7 linked regions of the Homo sapiens genome follow. The protein of the gene in region 3 purifies or fractionates together with the protein of the main gene of each other region. This does not show direct contact. Each region holds a gene or a part of one and is shown on either strand. Other genes may lie near its edges. The genes, in order: TPD52L1, NMNAT2, LMCD1, PCTP, SLC15A1, USP46 and OSBPL11.

Region 1 (3,135 bases), on a different chromosome or scaffold from region 3:
GTTTTTCTATCCAATTCTAATATTGTGTTTTCAGATTATAAGGCTGAGACTATGGTGTGCAGAAATTGGTTGGTGAACGGAGATATTTGTTTAAAGTACCATAACTTTATCTAATACAATGCGGTGTGCTGAATATGGTAAAAAAAGAAGGTGGCAGGGAGTTTTCACAAGTTAGCCACTTCACACTCAACAGGCAGCTATAGATTGGGCACAGAGACTGAGTACTTGTGTGCTGTGGTGGGCGAGCCAGCACGGCCTGAGAACCAGCTGGGCAGGGTTGGTTTCCTGCCTCTACTTCAACCAACAGGCTGGAAGCACAAATAAGGGAGAATGCCAGCATCCCTGCTAGTGAGCTTTCTTTGTCTACATTTGTCCACTCTGGTCAAGTTTACAGCCCCATTCTCTCTGCTAAGATTCCAGGCCTCAGAGATGATGTTGTCCTGAACCACCTTGATTTTCAGTTAGGTGTACAGATTGCACAGATTGTCATGCTCCATTAATTTGAGTAGAATTTTTCAGATGTGCTTTACTTCAAAATGTCATATATATCACTTCTATTTAATAAACACAAAACATGAACAATTAGCATGCTAACAAATATGTATATATTATATGGGCTTTTTAAATAGTGATTTTTTTTAGGTTGGATGTCTATTCAGTGTGCATTTTACAAATATATCTTAAGGCTATATCTCTGCCACCTAATAACAAATATATGTTCCCATTTAGAAAAAGAAAAGAGATACATATGATATATAAGATAAAAGTTAGTGCAGAAATCTGAGTGGATTGATAAATACCAGTTATTTTCATACATGTGAACAATTTACAAACTGAAAGGGGTTGCAGAACTCTGCTTCTCCCATTTTCTAGCTATCTCTTTTTTGGATATCCTTTATCTGACTAACTACTACTGTATGTAGATTGGAGAGAATTTTAAAATTGGAGATTATTTTAACATCCTAGGATAGCTGAGGTAATATTTATTTTCATATCCTCTCTCATGTTCACCAAATTAGCAGTAAAAGTTGACTACTTATTATTACTATTTTTGGAGACAGTGTCCCACTCTGTCACCCAGGCTGGAGTAGTGCAGTGGTGCAATCATAGCTCACTGCAGTTTCGAACTCCTAGGCTCATGCAATCCTCCTGCCTCAGCCTCTAGAGTAGCTGGGACTACAGGCAAGCAACACTATGTCTGGCTAATTTTTTTCTTTTTTTGTAGAGACAGGGTCTGTGTTGCCCAGGCTGATCTTTAACTCCTGGCCTCAAGCAATCCTCTCACCTTGGCATCCAAAATAGTTGGGATTACAGGTGTGAGCCGCCGCACCTGGCTAAAAGTTGATTTAAAATTGCATCTGTAAAATCATAACTAGCAACTTTTAAGACAAAGAAATTAAGAATTCAAAGTCATTAAAATCAATTCTTTTAATTGCTGAAATTAACATACATAATTGATGTAGGTGAGAGAGATCACAAGTAGTTGGATGAAATTTATAGTAAATCATCCTATTGCTGGAGACAGTCATGAAGAGCTCCATCCTGTTGATCTGCTGAACTGAAAGGGACTGTTCATTCAGCCTTCAAGGACATGCACATCATAAAGGAGGCCAAGCAAAAATCAAAGCAAACAATAGCTACATGTTTGGAAAAATATACATCGAATTACACAGACAGGAATTATGACCAGTTGTGTACCTGCTCAAGTGGGAACATTTTAAAATGTGACAGTCATCTATGAATACTGAAATGTGATGGTCAAGTGGTCCATCATCAACACAAATACAAATGGAAATCATTAAACTTTCTGGAGGGGCCATTTGAATAACAATGTCAAGGCCTGGGTTTTTCCCAGCGGGATTTTGGTCTTCTTATCTGGATAAGCACAGGCAGAGATGGGCTGGGTAGTGGCCGGTTTCTGGATGCAGCTGCACGCTGGCTGGACTTAGCACTGCAGCTCCTCCTCCTTGGTCCGCCGGGAGCCTCCTGCCAAGCTCTGGGCACTGGCATGGGCCGTGGAGCTGAGGACCTCCTCAAAACTGCCTCCATTAGGGTTCGTACCGCCTACTTTCGTCTGAAATGAGCAGATCCACAAAAATGCAGTTAGTTGTTACTATCATTTTTGTAATGTTTTTATAAGAATACCAAAAGCTGGATTACTTTCAAATTCAGAAATACTTTCTATCTTTAGAGACAAAAGAATGCACAGAAGTTTGTTTCCTTTAGTAGAGTGCTAGAATATTATTCATACTTGGGTTCTCGGATAGGATTCCAAACTTTAATTTTGCACACTTTTAGCAACCCTCTCTTTATCTCTCCTGTATCTAAGATTTTAATCCCTTCAGGAGCATAATCGGATCCATGGACTTGGAACAGCTATCTCCACTCACCCAGAGAACTGATCTAATCAAAATGGAATTAGATTTTTTATTAATTCCTCCAATTGTACAAATGTATAAACATCCTTACATGACCTAAACTTAGATTTTTCTACTTGGGAGTTAGCAGGGCAAACTGGATTTCTGACAAATGTCTTTTGAAAAGTCAGAGTGGCTCAATGGAAAATGATTTCTGGTTTCTGCTTTGAAAATTGAAGATGGATCAAGTCTTAATCACTGGTGATTTCACATCATCTTAGGCAACTGCCTTTTGATATGGTTTGGCTGTGTCCTCACCCAAATCTCATCTTGAATGGTAGTTCCCATAGTCCTCATAATCCTAGCAAGGAGGAACCTGGTAGGAGGTAATTGAATCATGGGGGCGGTGACCTCCATACTGTTCTCGTGATAGTGAGTGAGTTCTCACAAGATCTGATGCTTCTACAAGGGGCTTTCCTCCTTTTGTTCAGCACTTCTCCTTCCTGCCACCATGTGAAGAAGGACATATTTACTTCCCCTTCTGCCATGATTGTAAGTTTCCTGAGGCCCCCTCAGCCCTGTGGAACTGTGAGTCAATTAAATCTCTTTCCTTTATAAATTACCCAGTCTCAGGTATTTCTTCACAGCAGCGTGAAATGGAATTAATACACCCTTACAGTATGAATATTCCTTACAATGCAGTTATGATGGTTTATGAGGCTTTTTTCTTGTGTATTTGTTATTGACTAAGCATAGAAACATGAAGGAATTAACTTAC
Region 2 (3,500 bases), on a different chromosome or scaffold from region 3:
AGTGGACAATGAGGAGAAGGTTACATTTGAGTAAAGAATTGGAGGAGGGGAGCGAATGAGACATGGGCTAGGTGGGGAAGGGCATTCCCAGCAAAGGGAACATTCAGCACAAAGACTCTAAGGCCAAAGCAAAGATGTTCCATGGGGTTAGCTAAGAATGAAGTGGAAGAGATGCGTTAGGGTGGAGGTGGGGGGCAGAGTGGCTGATCATGGAGGCCTGTAGGCCATGATGATGACTTTGACTTTGATTGACAGAGATACGGAGCTCTGGAGGATTTGGAGCAAAGGAGCAACATGATCTGACTTAGATTTGGCTTACATTTTGAAAGGATCACTCTGTTTTTTTGTTTGTTTGTTTATTGAGACGGAGTCTCGCTCTGTCTCCCAGGCTGGAGTGCAGTGGTGCAATCTCAGCTCACTGCAACCTCCGCCTCCCGGGTTCAAGTGATTCTCCTGCCTCAGCCTCCCAAGTAGCTGGGACTACAGGCATGTGCCACCACGCCCGGCTAATTTTTTGTATTTTTAGTAGAGATGGGGTTTCACCTTGTTAGCCAGGATGGTCTCGATCTCCTGACCTCATGACCCACCTGCCTTGGCCTCCCAAAGTGCTGGGATTAGAGGTGTGAGCCACCATGCCCGGCCAAAAGGATCGCTCTGATAATTTGTTAAGAAATGAGTGTTGCAACCAAGAGTGGAAGCAGAGAGACCAGTTAAGAAGCTATTGCAATAATTCAAATGAAAGTTAACAGTGGTTTGCACCAGGGATGTAGATGGAGAGAGGTTGTTGGTCTTAGTTATATTTTGAAGATAAAGAGATTCCAAAACATTTGGACATAAATAGTGTGTCCAAAACAGGGAATAATTAAGCATTAGTCCAAGGTTTTTGGCCTAAGAAACTGAAACAAGAATAAAACTATAAGCATTTAGTCTTATCTAGGGAATATGCTTTACTATCTCTTCTACTGCCTGGTAAATATTAAATGAGGTCAATATGTTGCAGCATGTCTATTCATGTGGAGGCAATTTGATGTAGGAGGAAAAACAGAAAAAGAATGCTATTTAGCTGCCATCACTTCCAGGGGTTAGCCTCAGAGTCTTGCTCCTTTGCTACTTCCTCCTCTTAACCTCTTATTGCCATGATTATAAGAATTTTCCTGGCTGGCTCACTTGTATAATGCTAAAGAGAATTATGCATTAAATTTAAGAAAAAATAGCTTAATGGCAGTATGGTTTAAAGAAGTTCAAATAAAGTGGCTTCATGATTAGGATGATAATGGGGAAGATGATGATACTAGTAGTGGTCGTAATATTTGCCTTTGCTGCAGAGTTTACAAATCATGGAGACACTGGAAGATGTAAAGGGAGGAGGGAGCCAATACCAGGAGGATGGCCTTGGTCACAGCCAGAAATGACCAAATTCAATTCTTTTTCTGGGCTCAAGCGGACCTTTCACCTCAGCCTCCTGTGTAGTTAGGACTACAGGCACCATGTCCTCCTGTTTTTGGTCACATTCTCCTGGATGCTGGTGGAGGGACTACTGCTGGAGAGCACGGTGGTGGCTGTGAGCATGCACCCAGCCTAAGCATGAGACTCTACTATGCCACAGGCTGGGGTACTTGGAAAATGATTATAGTAGATCTTGTGCCATTTGAGTTATCAGTATTGTGGGTCTTTTCGAAGAAATATGATTTTTCTAAAGAAATATTAATTTTCTTTTCTTTCTTTTTTTTTTTTTTTTTTTTTTGAGACGGAGTCTCGCTCTGTCGCCCAAGCTGGAGTGCAGTGGCGCGATCTCGGCTCACTGCAAGCTCCGCCTTCCGGGTTCGCGCCATTCTCCTGCCTCAGCCTCCTGAGTAGCTGGGACTACAGGCGCCCGCAACCACGCCCAGCTAATTTTTTTGTGTTTTTAGTAGAGATGGGGTTTCACCGTGTTCGCCAGGATGGTCTCGATCTCCTGACCTCGTGATCCGCCCGCCTCGGCCTCCCAAAGTGCTGGGATTACAGGCATGAGCCACCGCGCCCGGCCTAGAAATATTAATTTTCAAAAACAGCGGCTGCCATAAGTTTCCAATTCCAATTGTTCTCACTGAAGCTTATTTCAGAAAGCTCTCCCTGATATTAACCACCCGACCTGAATGAATGACTCCTTGCAACCTGGTTATTCCTCTCTGTCAGGCATTAGACCTCTGACTGGCTTAAAAGGAGGAAAGATGCTAGACTTTGGTAATTTTTGGAGACAATATCAGAGCGCAGTGAAAAGATAATAGTTTTTGGAGTCATGGATTTAAACTGCAGCTAGCAGAAACAGGAGTTTGAGGCTGCAGGAAGCCATGACCCTGCTGCTGCTCTACAGCCTGGGCAACAGAGCAAGACCCTATATCTACAAATTAAAATAGAAAAAAATACAAAAAATAGCTAGAAATATTTCTGCTGTGATGAAATTCCCCAATTCCTCTGTTTTTGTTTATATAGCCAAAATAATCTGAGCTGTCCTTTCTTACTTTTCTATTTAAACTTGCTCTCTGACTTCCCAGTGGTAGATTTATTGACAAATATAGCTATAAATGTAAAGAAAGCTACATTAAATTATAATCTCTACATAGTTAAAAACTAAGCAGTTACATTTTTTAAAACTTCCAATTCCACATTATCTTCTTATGTAATGAGGCAGACCCATGAGATATGACATCACTCATTTATGAGTTTACTTTGCCAAAAACTTTTACTCATCCCTGAAAGCATTTTAGTTACAGTTGAGTATACAAGTGTCAAATATCTCTCACAAATACTATTTTTTCCTGTATGTTTCTATAGTTTCAAATAGGAGAAATAATATCAACTTCCCTTTCAGAGTAAAAGAAAAGTTCATTCTAAAAATATTTACAAATATTGAGAATTGTACAAGTGCTACTTTACAAAGATGAAGAGTGAGTTTTGAATGTCACTTCTCTTTTTGTTTACAGTCTCTCTTTTTCCTTTGATAAGAAATTGAATTTCAGGATATAGGAGCTCTATTTAAAATGCCTAATTTCAAAGTCTTGTTTGTGTCTGTTTTTTAAAAAAAAATTATTACAAATTTCAGTCACCTTAAAGAAAGCTTGAAAAAAAATTTTTAAGGCAGAGTCTGGCTGTATTACCTAGAATAGAGTGCAGTGTGCTATCTTGGCATACTGCAACCTCTGCCTCCCAGGCTTCCACCTCAGCCATCCTCCCACCTCAGCCTCCACAGTAGCTGGGACTACAGGCATGCAACACCATACCTGGCTAATTTTTATATTTTTTGTAGAGATGGGGTTTCACCATGTTGCCAAGTCTGGTCTCAAACTCCTGAGCTCATGTGTTAATGTCCATCTTCACCTCCCAAAGTGCTGGGATTGTAGGAGTGAGCCACCACACCTGGCCAAAAGTTTGATAATTTAGTTGTATTAATTATTTCCGTGTTGTCACAGAGAAAATTTTTAAAGCAATTTAAAAGGAGGAAATAGTTCATAAATAACTGG
Region 3 (3,500 bases):
AAAAGTTAATTGCCATAGAAACAAATGAAGACACTTGGTTGATGGGGCAGGAGGAGCAAAAGGTAAAACAGGGGCTGGGGACCAGAAACGCAGTACACGCTAGACCCACGTGGTCCAGCCTCAAGCATTCCTTTCGCCTTCTGTGGGGCAGTTTAAGACAAACCAAGCCATGAGGCTTTCATCTCCCCAACTCTGGCTTCTCCTTTCTGTTTTCTCAAAATGGCCCCCAGTGACTCACTCCTCAGCAGCACTTCTTCCACACTGCCACTTCCTATGGGTTGAACATCCCCTCCAAACACTCAGGTTGAAACATAATCCTCTGCATGGCAGTATTGAGAGGTGGGGCCTTTAAGAGATGATTGGGTCGTGAGGGCTCAGGTCCTCAGGAATGGATTAATCCACTTATGGCTTAATAGATTAATGGGTTATCACACGAGTGGGACTGGCTTCTAAGAAGAGGAAGAGAGACCCGAGTTAGCACACCCAGCCCCCTTGCCACATGATGCCCTGAGCCACCTCAGGACTCTGCAGAGAGTGCTCACCAGGAAGAAGTCCCTCACCAGATGCAGCCCCTTGGCCTTGGACTTCTCAGCCTCCACAGATGTATGAAATACATTCCTTTTCTTTATAAATTACCCAGTTTCAGGTATTCTGCTATAAGTAACAGAAAATGTACTAAGACACTGCTAGAGGAAACTTTTGTAAGCACAGCATGGACCATGTACCTCTGACCAAAAGCCTGTCTATGACCTTTGGAATAAAGTCCTAACTAAGTTCATGGCATTCTGCAGTTTGGGGACAGTGTCCTCTGCTTGTTTGATTTCCTGGGGCAGTGCAGCTAATACAAGCTAATCAGTATTTGACTGATGAATGGATGGATGGAATGAACCCTCCAGGAATCCAGCCTCTGCTGCCCTCCCTAGCCTCATGTCCCCAGCTCCCCAAGCATGCCACACTTTCAATCACGTGGGACTTCTTTTAATCTTCTAAATGCACTGTGCTTTCTTGAACTCCTGGCTCTTTTTGCAAATGCTCACCTCTTTAAGGGGGTACACATCCTCCCCTCAAAGCCTGAAGGCTTGGATGACCCCTAGACATTCTTCGTAGACCAGCTTGTACCTCACCAACTTCTTGAAGCTTACCCTCACCACCAAGCAGGCTTAGATGTCCCTTCTCTAAACTGTTTCGGTTTTGCCTGTGACCGCCACTGGACTATGAGCCTTTCAAGGGCAGTGGTATTGTATCATTTTCCATGGGACAGTGCCTGGCACAGACTAAATGAGCAATCAATATCTGCTGAATGCACAAATTCATGAATAAATGCATGAATGAGGGAACAAAGCCCCGTGATGGGGCCCTGACTGTCCAGCCCTGGGCCTGCATGGTTTCAGCCTGGCTGGAAGCATGGGAGAAACTTACGTATTCCACTTCTTTGGACGGGTCACTGAGACTGCCGTTGGTGGTAGCAGCAGTGGTCTCTGCCCCCTCTGGCTTTTCCTGCTGCTTCCCCTCCTCCTTGGGCAAGCCACCCTGCCCCGGGAGGGCCACTTCTCCCACGCCGAGGGCCTCGCTCTTATATTGCTTGACAAATTCTTCCATCAGTTTCAACTCATTCTCCAAAAGTCCACGGCAGCGCGAGGGATCCTGGTCATAGATGGGGAGCTGGTGCATGAGCTGGCGGCGGCGGTAAAAGGCACCCTCTGTGCCTGTCACTGGCTGCTTCTCCTTGGGGATGAGCTCCATGTACTGCAGTCCCTAGGGAGGAGGAGGAGGAAGAGACAACATGATGTGGATGGGGCTTCATCAGTCAAAGAAACTATGACAGAATCTACCTAAAACTGAAAATGCATTCTCTTCCAGCATTCTCAGCAACTGAAAGACCCACAGTCTTTATTTTCTTAACTTAATGCAGTTAGATTACTTTTGTAATTTTAGAAAATTACAAAAGCAATACTGTCCATTGTGACAAATAAAACACACATGAGAGAAAAAACTTTAGTAAAGGAAAAACACGCATCCCTTAGCTACCTTGTGTATGTAGGGAGTGTTCTGTGTCTCAATCTTGGTGAAAGGGCCATGGAAATGTATCTGTGTCAAAGCTCATCAAGCTGTACACATCAGATGCACGCACTTTGCCATATGCATACTGTATGATCGTGTGCTACATGACGGCATTTCAGTCCACGATGGGCCACATATACCATAGTGGTCCCATAAGATTATCATACTCTATTTTCACTATACCTTTTCTAGGTTTAGATATGTTTATATACACAAATACTGACTGACCATTGTGTTACAATTGCCTATAGTATTCAGTACAGTCACATGCTGTACAATTTGTGGCCTAGGAGCAATAGGCTATACTGCGTAGCCTAGATGCGTAGCAGGCTACACCATCTAGGTTTGTGTAAGTGCATTCTTTTCTTTTTTTTTTGAGATGGAGTCTCGCTCTGTTGCCCAGGCTGGAGTGCGGTGGTGTGATCTCGGCTCACTGCAAGCTCTGCCTCCCGGGTTCACGCCATTCTCCTGCCTCAGCCTCCCGAGTAGCTGGGACTACAGGTGCCCGCCACTGCTAATTTTTTTGTATTTTTAGTACAGACAGGGTTTCACCGTGTTAGCCGGGATGGTCTTGATCTCCTGACCTAGTGATGCACCCGCCTCGGTCTCCCAAAGTGCTGGGATTACAGGCATGAGCCACCGCGCCTGGCTGTGTAAGTGCATTCTTTGACATTCACACAAAGACAACATCACCTGAGGACACATTTCTCAGAACGAAACCCCAGCATTAAGTGGTGTATGACTGTCCTTTGTTTTAAAAAGGATTTTAAAAACTTACACCTTATTGGCTCATGGTAACAGCTTGCCAACAACTTTGTGTTTATCGTTCCAGACAATAGTATATTTATTAAATAAGGGCACCCAGTCTTCTTTCTGCCTGGAACAAATAACAAGTAGGGTTGTACTTAATGTATTTAAATGCTATTTTCTGTGCGTGTGTACCATTTAACATGAGTCCTTGGTCAGTGGGTTCTGTTTCTCCTGTGACTGGGCCAGCCCATGTCATGGTGTGGGACAGGGAACAATCTTGCGTGTGAGAAAGAGACACTTGTTTGCATCTGCTATTGTGTGCTCTATCTGTTGGTTAAGTAGCTAGCTGTCTACTTGCTAATAATAATCATTATTTTATTGCTTATTCTCCAAGGAACACTGTAGTTTTCAATTTTGGATGGCAGTGGAAAGAAAAAGGAGTCTACATTTACTCATGGGCTAGGTTTTCCATCAGAATTTGAATAAAGCTCATTTTGCTCTGTTCTCTGACTTTCAATTAATGGTAATAATTACATTTACTAGTTTGCCTCTATCACCAAAGAAAAGTTGCTGCTTTTAAACCTCTTCTTTAGTATCATTTGCTAGACGGTAGCCAGTTGATAAAACTCTTAACAGTATAATGACAAAAGTTATGCCAGCTGGCTGCCCTCACAAAACCTGTGTCCCAC
Region 4 (4,194 bases), on a different chromosome or scaffold from region 3:
CTTGGATCTAAATCCCAGTTTTATTCACCACTTCTTAGCCGTGTGCTTTGTATATGCCACTGACTTTCCCTGGACCTCAACTGCCTCGTCTGTATACAGGGAAGATGGCACAGCGGTCTGGGCTCGCTAGAGGAGAAGATGTCAGGTCTATGGTAATGGGAGAGAATGATGGAAATGTGAGTTGAGACCAAATTAGTTCAGTGTACCCACCAGGCAGCATTTGCCTTCTGTTTGGAGAGGCAATGCAGGAGCATGTTGAAGACACAGGACTGGAGGCAGACAGCTGGGTTTGGATCCTAGCTGGAATCTTGAGAAACCAACTTAACCTTTCTATGCATTCATTTATATATAGGTAAAAAGGTGATCATCATAGTACCTTATCATAGGGTTGATGCAAGGATTGAGTAAATCAATACTTCCAAAACACTTAGCACCTGAATTATAAGAAATCATGCAATAAATGTTAGCTATTACAGTGATGATTATTATTATTTCTGCAATCAATAGGCCACTGAAAAGGTAGTGATAAGATCACTGCTTCTCAGATGTTTGACTGCACTGGAAGGTGTAGGATAGACAGGAGCAGAGAGCTGGTAGGCCAAAAACTAGTTAAGAGGTCACTGCAATTCTAAGTGAGGGGTGCTGAGTACCCAAAGTAGCAAAGATAAAGGAAAGAAAATGGGAGGAAATAAGCCAGATGCTAGACACGTCTGAGCAGTTGAATCAACAAAACTTGGCCAAAGCCTTGATGTGGCTGGTAAGAAAAATGGAATAGCAGAGAAGATAAAAGAATTTTGCCTGGCTGGGTGTGGTGGCTCATCCCTGTAATCCCAGCACTTTGGGAGGCTGAGGGCTGAGGCAGGAGGACTGCTTGAGCCCAGGAGTTCCAAGACCAACCTGGGCAACATAGCAAGGCCTCATCTCTAAAAAATAAAAATTAAAAGAAAGACTTTTTCTGAAAATGTATCAATTTTCAAACTAAGGTACCTTTTAAAGTTACCCTAAGAAATTAATTCTGCCTGTTCTAGACTGTGAACTTCTTGATCATCTTGTTAAACCCAATGGTCCTAGTACACAGCAAGCATTCAGAGTTTGTTGAGTGAGTAATCCATCAAGATATAACATCTGTATACAGAAAAAAAGTAAATATGGCAGCTTAGCCACTTGCAGTATCTGCTGTGTTCTGGATTATGTAAAGGCCAGCCCTACTAATTTGTAAGTATTCCAAATAGCATGTTTTACAGTCCCACTAACTGGAGAGGGACGGACTGCATCCAAAGCAAATATATATGTATTTAGACAGGAAATTTCTTCATAATACCTATATTCTCCATTTATTTAGAGTAGGGTTTCTTGACCTTGGCAATATTACAATTTGGGACTGGATAATTCTTCCCCGGGAGAGGTATGGGGTCACTGTCCTGTGCATTGTAGAGTTATTTACAGCTATCAAATTTTCACACATATCTGACAGATTGGATTTGAACCCCCTAACAACCCTGCAATGAGACAGGCAGAGTTTTCATTCCTGCAATGAGACAGGCAGAGTTTTCATTCCTGTTTAACAGGTGAGCAACTTCTAAATATTGCAAACGTTTGTTTTCTGTTTTAAAATATAAAAACACTATATTTGATGTAAACAAAAATGCAAGTGCCTAAAAAGGCAACCACATGTTTGACATTCACAAGATCATGAACCCTCCAATCCCACCTCTGCTATTCACTTATCTGGGCCATTTCAGGAGTGACTTCACCCTTGAGGCCTGTTGCTTTCACCTATGAAACCTGGGGTTTAACCAGGTGAGCATGAGGTATCCTCCTAACTCTAACACTATAATATCCTGGTCCTGTATTAGGAAACTTCAGTTTCACCCACATTACCTGCAGGCGACTTTTAACCTACTTGCCATGCTGCGACTATTACACAAAGCAACTGATGACAAGCCTTGGATGACAGGCCTCAGGGGCAATGCCTTCCACCTGGATGGCTACCTGATTCCAAAGACTTCAACAACCAATCCCATTCCTCCTACATCTTTACTCCTGCCTGAAGATTCGGACTCAACTTATTAAGAGCAACTTGGAAGGAAGGGGCAACAACCAAAAGAAACGAGTCACTAAAACAGTAGGGCCCTTCTCGGCAACCCCTGACACCACCCTGCACATCCAGTCCTTGAAAAGTTCTGTTTCTTTTCCTCCTATATCCAAGCCCTAAGATACCGCCCCTCCCCCACCCCAGCCCCCATATGCCACTGACACGCATTGGAGAGTGAGGATCAACGTCCCTTGCAGACGTGTGCACGGGCCTAGGAACCAGCTGACCCACGTTTCAACTGTCATTAACTTCTAACTACATGCCCCGTCGGGCCTGACCTGAGGCTGAACTCCTGTGACCTTCCAACTCCCCTGGATCTGCACGGCAGTCACTTGGAGGCACCGCCCCTGCGCTAGCTCCAGAGCTTGAGACAGGGTCCGGGCGGAGCTCCTTCCTGAGCCGGAGAAGACGCGCCCCTGTCCCTTCCGCGACTGCCGCCCCGCACTCCCTGCGGGGAGGTCGACCCCGGCGCATTCTAGGCCCCGCGGTCCTCCAGCGGGTTGGCCGCTACCTTGTCCAGCAGCCGGTAGATGCTGATGCCCGAGGTCTCCACTAGGAGCTGCCAGTCGGCCCCGGCCAGAGCGGGCTGCTGGAGCTCGGCGCAGGCCTCCCAGAACTGCTCCTCCGAGAAGCTTCCGGCGGCCAGCTCCATCCTTCCGCAGTCCGGGCTCCTCCGCCTGGAGGGCAGGCCGCGGACACCCTTAGTGTGGGCCTGGGGGCGGGGTGACCGGGCTGCCCCGGCTGCCCCGGCTGCCCCAGCGTCATTGGCAGGAAACTGAGGAGAAGGCGGGGCCTAGACTGGAGGAGCGGCCTGAGGGTGGGGCCCTGGAGGGGCGGGCCTAGAAAAGCGGGCGGGGCTGAGCAAGGAGTGAGGAGGATAGACAAGAAGTAAAAGGAGAAAAATTGGACTTGATGTGGGGAAGGAAGGAAGAGCTGGAGAAGTAAGGAGGCTTCCAGAGGGAAGGGAAAAAGGAAGGGAGACAGTGATGTCACCTCAAAAACAGCTCCTCAGTAGCCTATCCCATACTCCCTGCTACTCCCATAACCTACAGACCTGTTTGAGTGTCTCTCATTTACCTTTCTGAATAAAGTAGAGAAAGTCTCTTTGGTAGACATGAGAGGAGAGGTGGGCAGAGTAGAAATGCTGGAAAAATCCTAAGGGGTCAAATGCCAGAAGTGTATTTCAATATAATTTCTCTTCTTTCTGCTATACATTGTAAAACATTATTCTGAGACGAGGTCCATTGGATTCCCCAGAAGACTCTAGGGGTTCATAACACCAAAACAGTTTAGAAACCTAATCCATAATGGATCTACAAGGTTGTTGCCACCCTTGAGGGTAGAAACTGATCTGAAAGGTGTCGTACTATCCACCTAGGATTTCTGCAACTTGCATAATTTAGCTCACTGTGCAACTCAAACATCTTCTTGTTCCTTTGAAGTCCCTTGAGTAATACTGTATTTCCCACCAGCAGACTGTACTACCTGACTTTGAATAAAGTAGGTCGTTTGAACATCAAAACGATGTAACAGCCACGTGAGTGCCAATAAACTCTGGAAACTCATGTTTCCTAATCTGTAAAATGGGTCAAGAATTGTGCTACCAGTTACAGCTGAGGAGGTGGTTGGACAAGGAATAATTTTCCACAGTGCCCGTCCAAGTAAATGTTCAATAACAATTTCCACTTGTTTTGCATTACTATATTGAAATGCTTTTCTTTCCTTACTTGAAAGAAAGTTGATGGCAAAGTCTTAATTTATGTGATTTTCCAATCAGGCAAATGATCACATTTGGCAGCTTGCTTAGTTAGACACAGCAGAGATAAATAATTGCTTTCCTCAAGTCAGTCCTGGTTCTGTTTGGCTTTATAGGTGTGGAAAGAGGGATGTGAAATTTTCCTAGACTAAATGCACAAAAGTTTAGGCTAGACATACTTTCCCACTGTTTTATAACTCCTTGTAAATTTTCTATGTATTGTAAATCCATATTTTATTTAAATGGAAATTCATTGCTTGAAAAACCAATTGTGTAAAAACTATTGGCTATGAAGTATTTTCAAGTATCTTCAAGGAATCCATTATAAAGGTTTGATTTGATA
Region 5 (3,500 bases), on a different chromosome or scaffold from region 3:
GACTTTCATCAGATGCTTGGTCTTCCAGCCAGCAGAATCATCAACCAAATATACCTTTTTCCTTTATAAATTCCCCAGCCTCAGGTATTCCTTTATAGCAACACAAGTGGACTAAGACAGCCCACGTCATTCCTTTGGCCTGGAAGAGCCTCTACTTCCTTCTTCATTAAGTCCCAGGAAAACTTTCCTGACAACATCCCACTGGGTGTGCTCGTGGAGCCCTTCCTGGAGGGCTGGGTGACTTCTCTCTTTAGTGACCTCACACCATGTGACCTCAAGCAGCGTGAGCCCCTCAGCAGCCAAGGGGGTATTTTAGAGAGTTTCTTCATATCCCCAGACCTTAACTCCATGCCTCACACATCACTAATAATAGACAGTATCCCTGCTACTGTGTCAAGATGTGACAAAGATGCTACATTTGTTTGCATTAGGGAAAAACAAAAACCTATAGATGCTGCTTGCAGTCACTAAATGTCAGGCACTGTTTCAGGCTCTAGGGACAGGATACTGAGCAGAAACAGCGCTGTAAATGCTCTCCTAAGGGTTTGTTTCTGTTTTTAATTTGTTTTTGAGACAGGGTCTTGTTCTGTCATCCAGGCTGGGGTGCAGTGATGTGATCACAGCTCACTGCAGCCTTGACCTCTGGGGCTCAAGCGGATCCTCCCACCTCAGCCTCCCAGCTAGCTGGGGCCACAGGTGTATGCCACTATGCCTTGCTAATTTCTTTATTTTTGGTAGAGATGGGTCTCACTATGTTGCCCAGGCTGGTTTCAAACTCCTGCCTCAGCCTCTCAAAGTGCTGGGATTACAGGTATGAACCATACCACACCTGGCCTCTCCTAAGAGTTTCTGTTCTTTGATTCATCATTCCCAGATTCCACCATTCCCAACTACAAAACCTACATTTACTTTTTCGCTTGTTTGTGAACAAGAAATTTCCAGCCACTCACTTGAACTTTCCCAGCCACGAGTCGGCGATAAGAGCTCCGAGAATTGGCGTCAGGTAGCACAGAGCCACAAACGTATGGTAGATGGCGGTGGACAGGTTATCATCCCAGCTGATGAAATTTGTGAAGTACAGAATCAGGATTGCTTTTGCAGAGGGCAGGTGGAAGAGGAGGGGGAAACAAAGTTAGGACTGGTTATGGCCACTCCCGCTCTTCCCTGAAGGGTGAGAAACGGCCAATACAGTTACCTCGCATTCCATAGTAGGAAAATCTTTCGCAAAACTCATTGACCACGATGAAGAAGATGCTCAGGGGATAACCAAAGAAACTCTGACAAAAAAGAAACAAGCACAGGATTGAAATACACCCCCCACTGGTCCATAGCCACAAAGGAGCACCAGTGGCATGAAAGGCAGCCAACGCAGATTCAGTAACTTACCGGTGACTGTCTAGAGCAGGAAACTAGCATTTAATCATTTTATTCCCTACACTAATCCTTCCACATAGAGACAGCAATGAAATAAAGCATCCAGTGGTATTGTTAGTCTGAGGAGGATTATCCACAGCATTTCCTCAGGAGAGGACATCTCACATGGAAATCCGGGATCATACCCTCACTGGTTCCAGATGTACAGATCTGTTAGGTGAATGAACCCTTAGGGGTAAAACAGATGATAAAATTTACAAGATGAAGATATGTAGAGAAGGAAAAAGGGTACTCACGTGTGATTTGGACATTCCTAAAAGAAAAACAGAATCCCAATATTAAAGTCAAGCCATTACAATAGTTTTTGCTGTGTCTAAACTCAGAGCCTCTGACTTTTTAGGGTGGTCAGAGGGGCCATTCACCAAACAGCTCCAGCCCTCCCTGGGATCCCGGCCCCAGACTCATGCTTCTTATCTGAGGTGGGGCCTGGCATCTGTATTTTCTTTTAAGAAGCTCCTCAGGCAATTCTCGTATGCAGTCAAAATTGAGAAGCAGCAGCTCAGAGAATCAGGCCTAAACCATTTCCTCCTGAAACACTTCAAAGGCCGCCCATCGGGATAAAATCCACACATTCTAGCATGTTCTTCAATATCTGACAAGTGTTTTGGTGGGGATGAAATTTCTGTAATATAAAATGCTTCTGAGTGCCTGACACACTGTGCACACTCAACCGCCACCTCCTATGGCTTGGGCCCTGCCTGCCAGGCTCACCCCATGATTTAAGTCTTGCCACCGATATTCCCTTCCCAAATCATCTCTGATGTGCCTACATCACCATACTGTAATGATGGGCAGTTTATATTTTTGCTTCCCTTCTGGACCAGGTTCTGAAAGCAGAAGAATCATGTGCCATCCATCACACCAACATCCCCACTTTCAACGTCCTGTACAATACCTACCACTGGTAGGGGGTTATGTCACAAGAATGAATGAGAAGAGCAGGAAGAAACAGCCTGAGAATACAAGGGAGCTGGTGCACGTCAAGTCCAGTGGACTCTCCCATGTGCATCCTAGGAGCGCCTCATCCCCATCCCGTCAGCACCTGCTCTTCTGTCTCCCCGGAATTTTGGCAAGAGCTGAGCTGTGCCCTTGTCTCTAGTCTTTACACCTCCTCACTCTGCTCCTACACAAACACATTGCCCTGTGTTCATCCGTGTCTATCACATACTACCCTGTTTCCCACAGGACATCCATCCCCTTCCCCCTCACTCACCCCGATTTCCTTATATTAGAGTTCTTTGTTGCCAGGGCTCCCTGAACATGCTCCACCTCCATTAGGAATCTAGGAATCGGTGACCCCATAGCAGTGGGTCTCACACTGGAGTGTGCCTCAGAATCACCAGAGGGCTTGCAAGAACAGATGGCTGGGCCCCATTCCTGGAGTTGTTGATTCTGTAGGCCTGAGATGGACACTTGAGCTTGCATTTCTAACAAGCTCCCAGGTGTGGGTGCTGCCACTGGTCCAGGCAGTGTGCTTTGGGAATCACTACACTGGAAAATTATTCTTTAGACTGTTCTTTTCCCAGTGTTTGTTCTTGGCAGCTTTGTCAAAAATGAGTTGGCTATAAATGGATGCATTTATTCCTGGGTTCTCTTTTCTGTTCCATTGGTCTATGTGTCTGTTTCCATGCTGATTTGGTTACTACAGCTTTGTAGTATATTTTGACATCAGGTGGTACCTCTGGCCCTATTCTTTTTGCTCAGGATGACTTTGGCTTTTCGAGGCCTTTTGTTGTTGTATATGAATTTTAGGATTTTTTTCTATTTCTATGAAAGTTGTCGTTGGATCTTGTCATTTGCAGCAATACAGATGAAACTGGAGGACATCAGGTTAAGTGAAATAAGCCAGGCACAGAAAGATAGATATCACATATTCTCACTCATATGTAGGAGCTAAAAAATTGATCTCATGGAGGTAGTAGTGGGTAGAATGGTGGTTACCAGAGGATGGGAAGGGTAGGTGAAGGTGGGAGGATGAAGCAAGGTTAGTGGATACAAAAACACAGTTCTGTAGAAGGAATAAGAGCTGGTGTTTGGTAGCACAACACGGTGACTACAGTTAACAA
Region 6 (2,842 bases), on a different chromosome or scaffold from region 3:
TGGGACTGTGTTTTTCTTTCCTAGGCCTCACTTTGTCCTGGGATTTATAGGACAGGCCTGTCACTACCAAGGTGACACAAATTCTAGAGAATGTATTTTCCCATTTCTTCAAATTTCCTTTCCTCTCTTTTTATTGATACTTAAAATACCTTTACTAAAAAAATGAAGCCTTCCATTTCCATTCCCTTATATTTACATGAAGATAAAAATACTTACTAAGTCGTTGTATTTGTCCATTCTGGCAGTGCTATAAAGACATACCTGAGCGTGGGTCATTTCTGAAGAAAAGAGGTTTAATTGGCTCATGGTTTTATGGGCTGTACAGGCTTCTGTTCTGGGGGAGGCCTCAGGAAACTTACAATCAGCAGAAGGCAAAGGGAAAGCAAGCCCATCTTACATGGCAGGAGCAAGAGGAAGAGAGCAAAGGGGGAGGGGTTACACACTTTTCTTTCCTTTTTTTTTTTTAAGATGGAGTCTCACTGTCACCCAGGCTGGAGTGCAGTGATGAGATCTCAGCTCACTGCAACCTCTGCCTCCCGAGTTCAAGCGATTCTTCTGCCTCAGCCTCCCAAGTAGCTGGGACTACAGGCATGTGCCACTATACCCGGGTAATTTTTGTATTTTCAGTAGATACAAAGTTTTCTCATATTGGCCAAGCTGGTCTGGAACTCCTGACTTCAGGTGCCTCAGCCTCCCAAAGTGCTGGGATTACAGGCAAGAGCCACCTTGCTCGGCTGGGGTTACACACTTTTAAACAACCAGATCTCGTGAGAACTCAGTCATGAGGCAGTACTAGGGGGATGGTGCTTAACCACCTATGATGCAATCACCTCCCACCAGGCCCCACCTCCAACACTGGGGATTACAATTCAACATGGGATTTGGGTGGAGACACAGAGCCAAACCGTATCAGTCATTTTTCTTTTACTGAAGGAAAATTTTGGTTGTGGGGTTAGTACTAAAGATAGCCCATGTAGACTTTTTCTGAAGATACCCCAAGTGGAGAGATTTTTAATTAGGCATTTATTTGGCACCTATTGCATTCTAGGCATTGTGATAGGAGCTGGGGGATAAAAAGGTGACACAGATTGGGTCCCTCTTATGGACTCGTTTTTTGTCTCAGAAGACAAGTCTGGGTGAGAAAGAAATTTAAAATTTAAGTTGTGGAAATAACACGTGTGGGGGAAACTCCTTGCAATTCAGCACAGTTTGGTATTCAGCCCCAGCCTCAACATGCAGATGGCACTGTTGGATGAAGCCACACCATCTTTTTTCCTGGGAGCCCCACACTCTTCCCAGCCTGCCTTCTAGCTCAGGGACAACACATTTTGAAAAACAAAGTATAAATCGATTATGTTGCAACAATGAACTTCACGTTTTGCCTCTTCTCATGTTAAAAGAGCCAGTATCATGAAAGCCTCAACAGTGAGCTTTATGAATCAAATATCTGTTATTTCTAAACAATCTGTTTACATTATGACCAAATAATTAGAGCCTATCTAGACTTACCAAAATAAGATAGGGCATAAGCGATTTATTGGTGCATCAGCCTTTGTTTGCTTTTTAAGGTTCCTTTATGTTTTAAAGGGATTTGAACAAAAGACATCAGGAGCTTACAAAGGAAAAATAGCTTCATTTTGGTTATGAGATACCAGAGTCAGAAATGACATTAGATTGTATAGAAAAGACTTCTAATTGTGTGCTTACTTCCCACATGATTATAATAAACTATATATTAACAACCTTGGGATCGTACTCAGGTTGTCAATTACACGGATGCATCTTTCACTTTTTTCTTTCCCAAGAGTGAGAGAAAGAGTGAGGTTGTGCTTAAGGCAGTGTGGAATTCTACAGAAGCTCTTCTTGGAAAAGGAGTTCAGGCACTTGTGTTGTAGACTGCAGTCTGATTCTGTTCTTACTTCCTCTCAGCATAAGGGAGCTTTGAAAAGAAAACTCAGACTTGTATCCGACTTGACCAGAAGCAAAATAACTTGATCATTGAAGCCACTATTTCTGTGTATTTGATCAAGTCCTCCTCTGGAATCCAATGCAGCCATATTCATATTTCGGTCTCTCTTAATGGACCTTGCTGGAAAGAACATTCTGTGCTAAGAAAATGGAAAATAAACGTGAGAAAACTTTAAGAATGAGCCTTCACACCTCCTGCAGCAGGTGATAGCTCTGTACTTCAGAGCTTGTCTCCAGGTTGAGAATTACCTGTTTTCCACTCTGAGGGGATTAGAAAGATACTGTTTTAATGGGTTATAAAACTTGTGTGAAGAAGATTGGCCTTCTCCACCTCTCCTGTGAAATAAATTGTTTGAAAACTCTTTGAAGAGAAATGGCTTCAGTATATTGTTCTATCTCTGCTACCCCAAAGCCCAGAGAACAAATATTAAGTATAAATTGCTAGGCTAGGTATGTCATATGTGGCAGCTTTGACATGTAAACCAAAAGACTGAGCCAAGTCTCAATCAATGTACAGGTTATTTTGCCAAGGTTGAAGACACACTAGGGAAAAGAGACACAAGCTACAGTATGATCTATGGCCCCTACTTTCTCCAAAGAGGATTTTGAGGGCTTCAGTATTTAAAGGGGAAAAGTAGGCAGGAGGAGAAAGGAGGAAAGAACAAAAAAAAGAGGGAGAGCATGGTCACATTCTTAGGAGGCTTTGATTCACACTCACTGAATCCATGTGTTGCACGTGGCAAGGAATGGGTAGAGGAACAGTCGATTATGTATGTCCCCTGCTCAGTAAAACTGCACTTTACAAAAGATAAACAGAATAGGGGAAGAAGTCAAATATGCATTTATCTCAGGCTGGGCAGTGGGGATGGTTTGT
Region 7 (3,972 bases), about 120 Mb from region 3:
AAAATATTTTTAAAGGAATATTGGTATTTAATGTTGACATTTTAATAAGAGATATCAAGCATATTAAAAAGAAAAATATTAAGACCTAACAGGAAATGTATAAAAAACACATATGTAGATGTTTCACAAAAGAAAAAAAAATGATCATAAAGAAAAATGAACTAAAAATGCATCAGAAACCTAAACATAAGCACTAAAACAAAACTCCTAGACAAACACATAAGTGTAAATCTTTGTCATCTTAAACTTCACAATGTTTTTTTAGATGTGACACAAAACTATAACAAGAGAAGAAAAAACTCATTAGACTTCATGAAAATTAAAAACCATTGTGCTGCAAACAATATCATCAAGAAAGTTGTAAACCAAAAATAACATTCGAAGGCACCTCACAACCAACTTAATAGACTCCCGGCTCTCTCCAGACCCAAATGTGAATGCCAGGGCCGCGGCGGCGCCCCACCCACAGCCCCATAGCAGGTCAGGACGAAGCGCCACGGACAGGGGACCCGCGGCCCCTGCCACAGGTCACACACATACAAAAAAATCATGCTGATTCCAAAAGCGGGCCTAGACCTCTCAAACTAACTGAATATATCTTCTTATCCTACAGTCACTTACCAATAAAAAGTTATCTTCTGGCCAGGCGCGGTGGCTCAAGCCTGTAATCCCGGCACTTTGGGAAGCAGAGGAGGGCTGATCACTTGAGGTCAGGAGTTCGAGACCAGCCTGGCCAACATGGTGAAACCCCATCTCTACTAAAAATACAAAAATTAGCCAGGTGTGGTGGCGCACGCCTGTAATCCCAGCTACTCGGGAGGCTGAGACACGAGAATCGCTTGAACCCAGGAGGTGGAGGTGGTAGTGAGCCGAGATCGCGCCACCACACTCCAGCCTGGGTGACAGAGCCAGACTCTGCCTCAAAAAAAAAAAAAAAATTATAATCTTCTATACTTCACTTCTATATGTTAATATAGTCATGCATATTTCATACATATGAATATTATTCATGATAAATGTATATCCCTCACAAAATCTTGGCTTTAATCCCTTCCAAGTTTCACAAAAATTTCACAAGCACAAATAAGCACAAAGGCTAAAAAGGACTACAGTTAGGCACATAGGAGTCAATCAAAACTTAAGAATTCATCCCTTTAGTTCCAATACGATGGGATGTGCTGGTTTGTTTCATTCATTCTTAAGGTTCTGGATAGTTCTTTCTCCCTACACTTCATATATGAAAAAACAAAAACAAAACTTGTTGCCTCTCCAGGACTCTCCTCCTGTTCCTTAAGTTGTTCATTCATATTAGTGAAAATTAACAAATATAGACTTTCTCATCAACACAGAGAGCATTGAAGTGGCCTGAGCAACGCAAACTGAACATCTCCAGGCTCAGGTTTAGTTTATCAGAGGCATTAGGATCTCTACCTTTGTCCTTGCATTCCAATTACTTATGTACATTCCCCTTTCCAAGTCACAAATACCTTCAGGGCAAGAATCTTTTCTGATTCTGGAGAAGCTCTGGACAAGTAAGTTTTGAGCACCAGTATTTGCTACCCTCTCGAGAAAGCTGAGTTAAACAGTTCCTGCCCTCGCAGTCTATCAGAGAAAGCTGGCTTGTAAATAAATTGCAACATAGGCAAAAGCAGAAGTGAGTACAGAATTAAATCTGAGGAAGCATTAACTCTCTGACTGTAGAGGAAGTTCAGGGATACATTTCTGTGTTCCTCAAAAGGCCTTCCATAAATACCTGTTGAATGAACAAATGAATGGATTAAATCTTTTAGGCGAGGTCCCAGATCCAAACGAGATGTATCAGTAGCTTCTGGAAGCCAGTGAAAAAACTTTTATCTTTCAACAATTGCGGGATGCAGCCTCCAGGGCATATTCACCCCTACCTCCACCTCGGGAAATAATTTTGGAGAAAGGAGCATACCTGTACTGCCAGCCTTTTGCACTGCCACCGCGGCTGCTGCTGCTGCTACTGATTCCACCTCCACAGCTGCTGTTCTTGTTCGGGGTCACCGCTGTGGCCTGGCCCTCCAGCTTTCCTTCGCTCTCCGAGACTTTCATTGTGGACACTGGTTCACCCCCCTGCATCTTAACGCCAAAGTCCACTTGCCCTTCTTGAGCGGGAGAGAACAATTCTGTAGTTCTGTAGGTGACTTTTTTTTTTTAAGATTTGATCTGAATATGATACCGGTTGCTAAATCACACGGCGGCTGGGGCGGGACTGTCAAATGGTCCAGAAAAGGAAGATACACATTCCCACAGAAGTTAAACTTTTGAGAGGGCAGGGGAAGCAACGAGGACAGATATCCTTCACATGTATCTCTCTCCTTTCCGGCAAAAGCAAGGAGGAAAAAGCATCCGGCGAGAAGACTTAAGTGACATACTCAAAAGAGAAGGAGTGTGGGGAGGTCGCAGATTCTGTAGCCAAGACGGCTGGGAAAAGGACGGAGCGCCACGGACAGGGGACCCGCGGCCTAACCTCGGGGCTGACCCGCCGCGCTCCCTCGTCTCCTCCGCAGGTCCTCAGGCAGTGCGTCCAGTCAAGCCCGCTCGGCAGTTCCCGCCGCAGCCCCCGAGATACAGCCAGGGCCGGCGCGCGCAGCCGGGGAGGAGGGTCGGGGAATGAGGCCGCCGGGGGCGGGACGCCGGCTCCCGGGGCCGCCTCTCCCAGGGCCAGAGGCGAGCCACTCGGGACAACTTCCTCTTATGCCCCTGGCCCGGGCCCTCGACTGGGTTCCCAGGAGCCGGTGAGTCTCTCGCGCTATCTCCAGACCCAAGCGCGAATGCCAGGGCCGCGGCCGCCGCCCCACCCACAGCCCCACAGCCCCACAGCCCCACAGCGGGTCAGCCACCCCCCGCCCCCTGCTCCCTTCCCGCCTTCCCTTCCGGAGTAGCGTGAGCTCACTTCCCTCACAGCCGAAGCGTCTGGCGCCATCTTGGGTCAGGGCGGCGGGTCCCTGAAGGAGGCGGAGGCTCTGGGAGCTGGTAGCTGGGCGACTGGCTGATGGGCGAGGGAGGGCGAGGGAGGGCGCCGCAACGGAACGAGGAACCCGGACAGTGAAGGAGGAAGAAACAAAGGAGCCAGCAGCACTAGAGAGTTCCCTTCTGGTGTGTGAGTGCCCGCCTTCCTTTTTTTTTTTTTTTTTTTTGAGACGGAGTCTCGCTCTGTCGCCCAGGCTGGAGTGCAGTGGCGCGATCTCGGCTCACTGCAAGCTCCGCCTCCCGGATTCACGCCATTCTCCTGCCTCAGCCTCCCAAGTAGCTGGGACTACAGGCACCCGCCACTACGCCCGGCTAGTTTTTTGTATTTTTAGTAGAGACGGGGTTTCACCGTTTTAGCCGGGATGGTCTCGATCTCCTGACCTCGTGATCCGCCCGCCTCGGCCTCCCAAAGTGCTGGGATTACAGGCGTGAGCCACCGCGCCCGGCCGAGTGCCCGCCTTCCTAACCACGTCCTAGCCTTCCATTTGAGGGGCCGTTCCAGGCATTTTAGGAAGAAAGCTTACAAAAATAAGAAAGTACAAGAACGAAGCAAACATCTGTACGTTTTAGTTACTTGGGGTGGGGGGGGGGCAAGCATGACATTGGAGTAAAGCCAATCATTATTATAAATTAAAAAGAAGCTGTCATGGAAATTAGAGATCTCAGAACAGAGCTAGGTACTCTTCCAGACCCCAGACAAATCTTTCACCTTGTTTAGGCCTTGGTTTTGGATTTGTAAAACAAGAGTGCATGGGTAGATTTCTAAAGTCTCTCCTAATTGCTAATTTTAGTTTATAATAACATGACTTGAGGCTGGGCACAGTGGCTCACGCCTGTAATCCCAGCACTTTGGGAGGCCGAGGTGGGCGGATCACTTGAGGTCAGGAGTTCGAGACCAGCCTGGCCAACATGGTGAAACCCATTCTCAACTAAAAATACAAAAATTAACCGGGCATGGTGGTGCGTGCCCGTAAT

Evidence for each region.
Region 1: the proteins of LMCD1 (region 3) and TPD52L1 purify together in Homo sapiens (co-immunoprecipitation; one large-scale study listed by IntAct). This does not show direct contact.
Region 2: the proteins of LMCD1 (region 3) and NMNAT2 purify together in Homo sapiens (co-immunoprecipitation; one large-scale study listed by IntAct). This does not show direct contact.
Region 4: the proteins of LMCD1 (region 3) and PCTP fractionate together in Homo sapiens (co-fractionation; one large-scale study listed by BioGRID). This does not show direct contact.
Region 5: the proteins of LMCD1 (region 3) and SLC15A1 purify together in Homo sapiens (co-immunoprecipitation; one large-scale study listed by IntAct). This does not show direct contact.
Region 6: the proteins of LMCD1 (region 3) and USP46 purify together in Homo sapiens (co-immunoprecipitation; one large-scale study listed by IntAct). This does not show direct contact.
Region 7: the proteins of LMCD1 (region 3) and OSBPL11 purify together in Homo sapiens (co-immunoprecipitation; one large-scale study listed by IntAct). This does not show direct contact.

The regions. Positions count from the first base shown.
Region 1 is NC_000006.12:125,261,773-125,264,907, reverse strand, and holds the end of TPD52L1 (tumor protein D53), read right to left. Parts: intron 2,075-3,135; coding exon 1,946-2,074; 3' UTR 501-1,945; downstream 1-500.
Region 2 is NC_000001.11:183,411,881-183,415,380, forward strand, and holds part of NMNAT2 (nicotinamide/nicotinic acid mononucleotide adenylyltransferase 2), read right to left. Parts: intron 1-3,500.
Region 3 is NC_000003.12:8,546,823-8,550,322, reverse strand, and holds part of LMCD1 (LIM and cysteine-rich domains protein 1), read right to left. Parts: intron 1,756-3,500; coding exon 1,420-1,755; intron 450-1,419; coding exon of another isoform or gene 429-449; exon of another isoform or gene 1-428. UniProt on the Homo sapiens protein: Transcriptional cofactor that restricts GATA6 function by inhibiting DNA-binding, resulting in repression of GATA6 transcriptional activation of downstream target genes. Represses GATA6-mediated trans activation of lung- and cardiac tissue-specific promoters.
Region 4 is NC_000017.11:55,749,657-55,753,850, reverse strand, and holds the start of PCTP (phosphatidylcholine transfer protein), read right to left. Parts: upstream 2,801-4,194; 5' UTR 2,748-2,800; coding exon 2,607-2,747; exon of another isoform or gene 1-2,606. UniProt on the Homo sapiens protein: Catalyzes the transfer of phosphatidylcholine between membranes. Binds a single lipid molecule.
Region 5 is NC_000013.11:98,725,173-98,728,672, forward strand, and holds part of SLC15A1 (solute carrier family 15 member 1), read right to left. Parts: intron 1,688-3,500; coding exon 1,671-1,687; intron 1,278-1,670; coding exon 1,196-1,277; intron 1,093-1,195; coding exon 951-1,092; intron 1-950. UniProt on the Homo sapiens protein: Electrogenic proton-coupled amino-acid transporter that transports oligopeptides of 2 to 4 amino acids with a preference for dipeptides. Transports neutral and monovalently charged peptides with a proton to peptide stoichiometry of 1:1 or 2:1.
Region 6 is NC_000004.12:52,590,460-52,593,301, reverse strand, and holds the end of USP46 (ubiquitin carboxyl-terminal hydrolase 46), read left to right. Parts: 3' UTR 1-2,342; downstream 2,343-2,842. UniProt on the Homo sapiens protein: Deubiquitinating enzyme that plays a role in behavior, possibly by regulating GABA action. May act by mediating the deubiquitination of GAD1/GAD67.
Region 7 is NC_000003.12:125,592,698-125,596,669, forward strand, and holds the start of OSBPL11 (oxysterol-binding protein-related protein 11), read right to left. Parts: upstream 2,801-3,972; 5' UTR 2,104-2,800; coding exon 1,940-2,103; intron 1-1,939. UniProt on the Homo sapiens protein: Plays a role in regulating ADIPOQ and FABP4 levels in differentiating adipocytes and is also involved in regulation of adipocyte triglyceride storage. Weakly binds 25-hydroxycholesterol. Interacts with OSBPL9 to function as lipid transfer proteins.